Linked DNA regions of Homo sapiens. The protein of the gene in region 1 purifies or fractionates together with the protein of each later gene. This does not show direct contact. Each region holds a gene or a part of one and is shown in the gene's direction. Other genes may lie near its edges.

Evidence for each region.
Region 2: the proteins of OSTC (region 1) and KAT6A purify together in Homo sapiens (affinity purification with mass spectrometry, with the first as the bait; one large-scale study listed by BioGRID). This does not show direct contact.

What each region holds. Positions count from the first base shown.
Region 1 is NC_000004.12:108,653,410-108,657,232, forward strand, and holds part of OSTC (oligosaccharyltransferase complex subunit OSTC), read left to right. Parts: intron 1-2,154; coding exon 2,155-2,248; intron 2,249-3,823. UniProt on the Homo sapiens protein: Subunit of STT3A-containing oligosaccharyl transferase (OST-A) complex that catalyzes the initial transfer of a defined glycan (Glc(3)Man(9)GlcNAc(2) in eukaryotes) from the lipid carrier dolichol-pyrophosphate to an asparagine residue within an Asn-X-Ser/Thr consensus motif in nascent polypeptide chains, the first step in protein N-glycosylation.
Region 2 is NC_000008.11:41,936,679-41,940,501, reverse strand, and holds part of KAT6A (histone acetyltransferase KAT6A), read left to right. Parts: intron 1-2,933; coding exon 2,934-3,246; intron 3,247-3,823. UniProt on the Homo sapiens protein: Histone acetyltransferase that acetylates lysine residues in histone H3 and histone H4 (in vitro). Component of the MOZ/MORF complex which has a histone H3 acetyltransferase activity. May act as a transcriptional coactivator for RUNX1 and RUNX2.

The sequences.
Region 1 (3,823 bases):
AACGTAGGGCAAATGTGAGACCAAAAGACCAATTAGGTGGCCTTTGTAGTTGACTTAGACTATACAAGGTTTATGGTAGTGGAGATTAGGATAATATAATGAAAGATATGTTGGAAGTAGATTCAGTAGGTCTTGAATTCACTGGGTGTAGGGGAAGAATGAAGTGGGAAGGAATCTTACAGGTTTCTGGTTTGAGCTCCTGAATAGATGGAAGTATCATTTCCTGAGATTGAGAAAACAAAGTTTTTGGTGGAAAATGGTGCACCAGAGGTTGTTTTGGGGTAAAATTAGTTGGATATGTCACATGTGCAGATGGGAGTCTAGACCTGAGAAAAGAGGCCTGTGTTGAAGTTGGTCAACTAACAGACATTTCTGGAACTCCCATGAGACATTGAAGAGTATAGGCAAAGTCCAAAGTCTCTGTTCTTGAGGAGCTTACATGTAATTCTAATGGTACTGGCATTATTTGAGAGGCCTTGGCACATCACATTGAGAGTCTTTAGCACATGAAATTGAAAGCCCTGGGAGTTCATTTTGGAGAAAAGTAGAAGAGGACAGTGGACCAATCCCTGAGGGCCTCCAACATTTAGTTCTTTTATAAAAGAAGAGGCCCAATAGAGAGGTAGCAAGAAAACATGAAGAGGAGTATCACAAAAGCCATAAGAAGAGGTGTTTTTCAAGAAATTGGTTTAGTAAACTGGATTGAGTGCTTCTGAGAAGTCCCCTAAGATGAGAACTGAAAAGTGTCTATTGAATTTGACAACATGGAGATCATTGGTGACCTTAGAAAGAGCAGTATCAATGGTTGCAGAAGCCAGATTGGATTGAGTTGAAGAATGAAGGGTAAGTAAGAAAGGGGAGATGGCAAGTTTGCCTAAGTCTTCCAGAAGAAAGTCTGACTCCCTTTCAGAAAGCAAAGATAGAAATAGGATGTTAGCTAAGAGGATCTGAAGTCAAGGAGGGTTGATGTAGGGAAGGAGAGCTTGAAAATACAGGAGAGAGGAGAGATATCCAAAGGAATAAAGTCCCTGAGAGTCCAAGTGGGAATGGACTCCTGGTAATTGCAAAAGGGATCCCACATTATAGGAGGTGGGAATCTTCCTCTTTGTAGCTGGAAAGAAGGAGGTGAGGATGGATGCAGGTACCAGGTATTTGTAGATTTGGTGGGGAAAAGACAAGGGAATTCCTATAGGATTGTTTTGTCAGGCTAGGATAAGGGAGATAGGCTTGTTATGCTTAAGAAAAGCTGGAGATGAAGATGTTTGAGAACAGTGGAGAAGGTAGAGTAGATGTTGACAGTGGGAGATTGAGAAAACTATTAGTGCTGATGAACATTAATGTTAATGATCACGATGACATTATGACATAATGGTGGACATTAATGTTAATGATTATGAATCTCTAGTATTGCCATTCTGCCTGATGGCGTGGTTTTAAAATGTCTCCTTGTTTTACATTTAAGCAATTTCTCTAGTTATTTTTCAATTTATAGAAACAAATCTAAGCATATCTGAGACAATTTTTGTGAACCGAAGTAGAGCCTTTAGTTTTAAATCCCCTTTATACTAAAGTCATTCCTGAGTATTAGCAACTCTTATTGGATGAATTTCCTTTATGAAATTTGTACTTCATTTAGATATCATACAGTTTTCAAAGTAATTCTAAAACATTGAGTTGAATGTCTGAATGATTTATCAGAACTTTAGATGAGTTGGGCCACATTTGGTTATAATAATACAATCAAAGCATTCCTATTTAAAAGTAAATGAAACTTGGCCGGGTGCAGTGGCTCACACCTGTAATCCCAGCACTTTGGGAGACTGAGGCAGGTGGATCACCTGAGGTCAGGAGTTCGAGACCAGCCTGACCAATATGGTGAAATCCCGTCTCTACTAAAAATACAAAAATTAGCTGGGCATGGTGGTGGGCGCCTGTAGTCCCAGCTACTTGGGAGGCTGAGGCAGGAGAATTGCTTCAACTTGGGTGGCGGAGTTTGGCAGTAAGCCAAGTGGCGCCACTGCACTCTCAACCTGGGCGACAGAGTGAGACTCTGTCTCAAAAAAAGTAAATGAACCTTAAGAGACAATGAAAACTATAATCCTGTTTTCAAAAATTAGTAATACAATCTAATCTGTTCTGTTGTCTTTCTTATAGGAATAATTTATGATGTTATTGTTGAACCTCCAAGTGTCGGTTCTATGACTGATGAACATGGGCATCAGAGGCCAGTAGCTTTCTTGGCCTACAGGTAAAAGATACCTTTTTGAATGATTTGGTGGTGGGAAAGAAGGTTGCTGTGGTATGCCCACTTATTTAAAAATAGAGTAAAACCTATGGGATCCATGTGTATTTAGACAACAGCTGTTTTAAAATGCTGGATTCTGAAATGGCAGAAAGTGAGTCAAAAACAAGAGTATATTATTTATTTATTAAGAAATAAAGTATTTCATAATGATGTATCACCAATTTACAGTAGGGTGTCAGTTTAAACTACATTTATAGATTGTTCTGGGGGTCAGTGAACTATAGCTGCTTTTTTTTTCTTTTCCCCAAAAAAGTTTTATTGGAAGTAAGTATGCCCATGTGTTTTATATGATCTATGGCTGCTTTTAAGCTAGAGTGGCTGAGCTGAATAAGTATGACACAAACCATATACCCCACAAGCCTAAGATATTTACTATATGGGTATTTAAGAAAATATTTTTGGACTATACCCTGGTCTATACCATTAAATAACAAAAGTATTTTTGAGACTTTGAGGGTTCTGTTTCATCAGTGAAACCCCGTTCCAGTGTGGTTTTGTTCACCTGAACAATGCTTATATTGCTTTCTAAAATTTACTTAATATCTACCAAAACATAGCTATATGTTTATATTTGCAGTAATGCTATTTATGCATAGAATATTTCTGGAAAGATTTATTAGTATTCTCTGTGGAGGGGAGTTAATGACAGGTTGATGGTAGGGTGGCTCTTCATAGTGCCCTCTTTCACACTGTTTGAATTTTGAACTTGGTACATATATTGTGTTTTCAATGAAAACAATTGACCAAAAAAAAAAAAAAATACCCTGTTTACATATGCCTATGTATAATCATCCCTTTAACGAGAAATTTTCTTCTTGAGGTCCTTGAACTATGAGAATTTGATAAAAGCTCTGTATCCCTAGAAAAATCACACACACACACACTTTTACATATAATTAGAGGGGTTTGTAGTTCACTGAAGTTCTTATGGGACCCATGGAGCCTTATTTAAGAACAGTTTCTTTTTAAAATATTTCCATTTGAAACAAGAAGTTTATTATTATTAACATAAAACTTCAAGAAACACATCTAACCAATTCAAAATTAGTTTGAATTGATAGTAGAAATTTAAATAGCATAACTTTTTAAAAAAAGCTAACCTAGACCGGGCGCAGTGGCTCACGCCTGTAATCCCAGCACTTTGGGAGGCCGAGATGGGCGGATCACGAGGTCAGGAGATTGGGACTATCCTGGCTAACCCGGTGAAACCCTGTCTCCCCTAAAAATACAAAAAATTAGCCAGGCGTGGTGGCACGCGCCTGTAGTCCCAGCGATCTGGGAGGTGGAGGTTGCAGTGAGCCGAGATCGTGCCACAGCACTCCAGCCTGGGCGACAGCAAGACTCAATCTCAAAAAAAAAAAAAAGCTAAGCTAAAGTTCTGGGTAAAGCGTTCGTATACATAAAATATGAGTATTTATTTTACATAAACAGTTGTGTTAGTTGAGGTTTTACGACATTTTTTGAATGTGAACTCCATGAAGACAAAGATTTTTGTCTGTTTTATTCATTGTTGTATAT
Region 2 (3,823 bases), on another chromosome or scaffold:
ATATTTTTAAAGTATGTACAGATTAGAAGTGTTTATATTAGAAAAGGAGGCCAAAATATTACATAATTAATTGGAAAGTGAACATAGTGCTGCCCTATATTTTGGGGTACTCAGAGTACAGTAGCTCATCTTGGGTGCTATTGTTTTCTCTCTACTCTCCCCACTTCTCACACATCCCTCCAGTGGTTTAACGTGGTCTCTCTTGCTTTAAAAATATTTTCTAAACTATATTCCATCATAATGATAGCCAATTAGTTATTAAATAATGTACAATGATGATAATGAATTCTGTTAAGCCGTTTACCAGAAACATCCCAGGCTATGGAGTGGATTTTAAGCATTGCCAGGAGGCAGCCAGACTGAAGCGAGGCTGCTCCCTGGAAGAGCCACTCAGCCAGCTTCCAGCCAAAGCAGCACAATCGTTCCTTTCCTTACAGGGTCTTAAAAAGCAAGACAGGATCTTTTGTTTTGTTTTGTTTTGTTTTAAGAATAATATCTTCAGAGCAGTTTTACATTTACAGAATTAATGCAAAGAAAGTACAGAGAGTTCTCGCATACCCCAGCCAGTTTCCTCTATTATTAATCCCTTGCGTTGGTGTGGTACATCTATCACAGTTACTGAACCAGTGTAGATACATCAGTAACTAGAGTTCATACTTTATTCAGATTTCCATAGTTTTCCCTAACGTCCTTTTTCTGTTCCAGGATCCCACCCAGCATATCGCATTACATTTAGTAGTCATGTGTCTTTAGGTTCCTCTTGGCTGTGGTAGTTTCTCAGAATTTCCTTAGTTTCGATGGCCTTCATAGTTTTGAGAATGACTGGTCAGGTATTTTGTAGATGATCCCTCATGATATTAGAATGGGGTAATATATTCTTGAGAGGAAGACCATAGAGGTAAAGTGCCATTCTCATCACATAATTAAAGGGTACCTGTTGGCATATATCTATCAGTATGTATAGGGAAGCTGGGCATAGTGGTCACTCTTGTAATCCTAGCTACTTGGGAGGCTGAGGCGGGAGGATCACTTGAGCTGGAGGCTGTAGTGCACAATGATTGTACCTGTAAATAGCCACTGTAGTCCAACCTGCGTGACATAGCAAGACTCCGTCTGTAAAAATAAAAAGAAGCAAGTATCAAATATAAGGGTATTATCAATTTGATTTTTCCCTATTGAAGTTAACTTTGATGACCTGGCTTAAGATATTGTTTGTCAGGTTTCTACTTTTCTTTTCCCTTTACTGGAAGGAAGTCACTGTGCATAGCCACACTTAAGATTTCTACCCCCTCAGAGTGGAGGCTCAGCATAAATTATTTGAATTTCTGCTTGGGAGATTTGTCCTTTCTCCCTCATCTGTTTATTTATCCAAGCATTTATTTATATCATTATTGGCCCAGATATTTACGTGATACTTCACTTTATAATCCAATACTACTGCTTTTTAAAATTTGTTGCTCAGATTGTTCCAGTTTTGACCATTAGAAGCTCCTTCTTTTAGTTTCCCTCTTGGGCTGCTGCTGCTTTTTTTTTTTTTTTTTTTTTTTCCTTCCCCAGATGGGGTCTTACTCTGTCACCTAGGCTGGAGTGCAGCGGCATGATCTCAGCTCACTGCAACCTCCACCTCCTGGGATGCAAGCAACGCTCCCACCTCAGCCTCTTGAATAACTTGGACTACAGGCATGTTCCATCACGCCTGGCTAATTTTTTGTACTTTTGATAGAGACAGGGTTTCGCTATGTTGCTCAGGCTGGTCTTGAACTCCTGAGCTTGGGCGGTCCACCTGCCTTGGCCTCCAAGGTGCTGGGATTACAGGTGTGAGCCACCGCGCCTGGCCTCCTGTGTTTAACATATATACTGTTGTTGTCATTGTGGGGTCTTTTTGTTTGTTTTTAAGCATTTCCTTTCTGGCACTACAAGATGCTTCAAGTTCATCTTGTATATTTCATGCCCTTGTCCTAGAATCAGCCTTTTCTCCAAGGACCAGGGCCATTTTTAATCTAATTTGAAAATTACATTCTCGATTGGGACTATTAAGTTTGAAGTAGAGAAAAATTGAACATTGACTAACTGCTGTTCATTGCATGATCATGAAGAATAGATCTTTGTCATCCTAGCACTTGTATTGCCAATTTATGAAGTAAAACAAATCATGTTAAAAAAAGAAAAAGAACAGGCAGTAAGCTCACATGCAAAGTAATTTTGAAGTTAATGAATAAATGCTTTGACTGGATGTGTGAACTTAAGCAAGTCCTATACCCTCTCTGACATCTATAGAATGAAGGGATTGGATTAGATAATCTCTGGGGCATCATCTCTTATTTTGTGATATTAGTTGTATAATTTTAGCTATTTGGTCAGTCCAGTGCAAAGTTGTGCTCAGTGTGCCCAAATTTCAGTAACAGATTTATTTTACTTTTGAAATATTTCACTAACACTGAGTAAATACATTTCAGCCCCATATTTCTACATTCCACAGCTTTTTATGAGTAGTTCATGAAAATGGCATACAACTTTACTGATAGTTCTGCAAACCTTCACAGTAGTGCTATAAGACAAAGTGTTTTTATTTCTCTTTTGCTCTTAAGTTGGAAAAGTTAAGGGATTAGCCTCTGGGTCAGTTCAGTATTAAAACAGGGCAACTCTCTAGGGTGCTAAATTTAACTGAACTATTAAGAGAATTATAATGTCTGCTATTTGGAGATGGCTGCCTATTCTTTTACAAAGTTGTGTTCAATTGCCTAATACCTTTGTATTTATAATAAGTGTATTATCTTACTATAGTATTTTGAAATAATATTCAAAATATTTTTTGGCAAACAACATCCTCATTTTATATGTGCTAATTCTATTTGGTTTTAAAACTGTTTTCGTATTATTAATAGAAAAGATAGTGTTCATAACTGTAAATACTTGCTTTCTCTATTAAACAGAAACCATTTCTCCACCGAAGGAGGAGAGTCCGAAAGCGCAAACACCACAATAGCAGTGTAGTCACAGAAACTATTTCTGAGACCACTGAAGTGTTAGATGAACCTTTTGAAGATTCTGACTCCGAGAGGCCAATGCCAAGATTAGAACCCACGTTTGAGATCGATGAAGAAGAGGAGGAAGAGGATGAAAATGAACTTTTCCCTAGAGAATACTTCCGTCGTTTGTCTTCGCAGGATGTACTCAGGTGTCAGTCCTCTTCTAAGAGGAAGTCTAAAGATGAAGAAGAAGATGAAGAGTCAGATGATGCTGATGGTATGTTTTACAGAACTCACTTACTGTGGTTTATTGTCTTCAGATATATAGCAGTAGCAGTGACAGACCCTTCAGTAAAAAGGCTGAAAAATGAACACAACCCACTAAGCAAGAAAAGGAACGTTTGGCAATCTCTAAAAAGTTGTATCAAGTATATCCATCTTGATTTTTAAATGTGTTTTCCCTTCAACTCAGAACCTCTATTAATTTGCCTCTGCAGAAAATATCTTACTATTAGGCAACTGTTCTTTTTTGCCCAATCCTTTCTAAGCCTTTATCAGAATCTTTAGTTAATGGGAGAGTTGGACTTAGCATCAGGAAGATGTAATAACCCTTCACTAGAATGTGCATTCTCTAGACTTAGTCTGTTTTGCTCATTGCTGTATGCTGAGTGCTTAAGCCCGGCGCTCAGTAAGTAGTGTTAAATGAGTGAATGCTAAGAAGACAATTCTCCAGAAAGAGCAGATTCATGTAAATTGGAACTTGTGTCACATCTGTTCAGGAGTCTTTCCTGAATTGTATCTCTAATGTGTCTTACCCAACTAGTAGTAAATTTCTCACAAATGGTAACAATAAC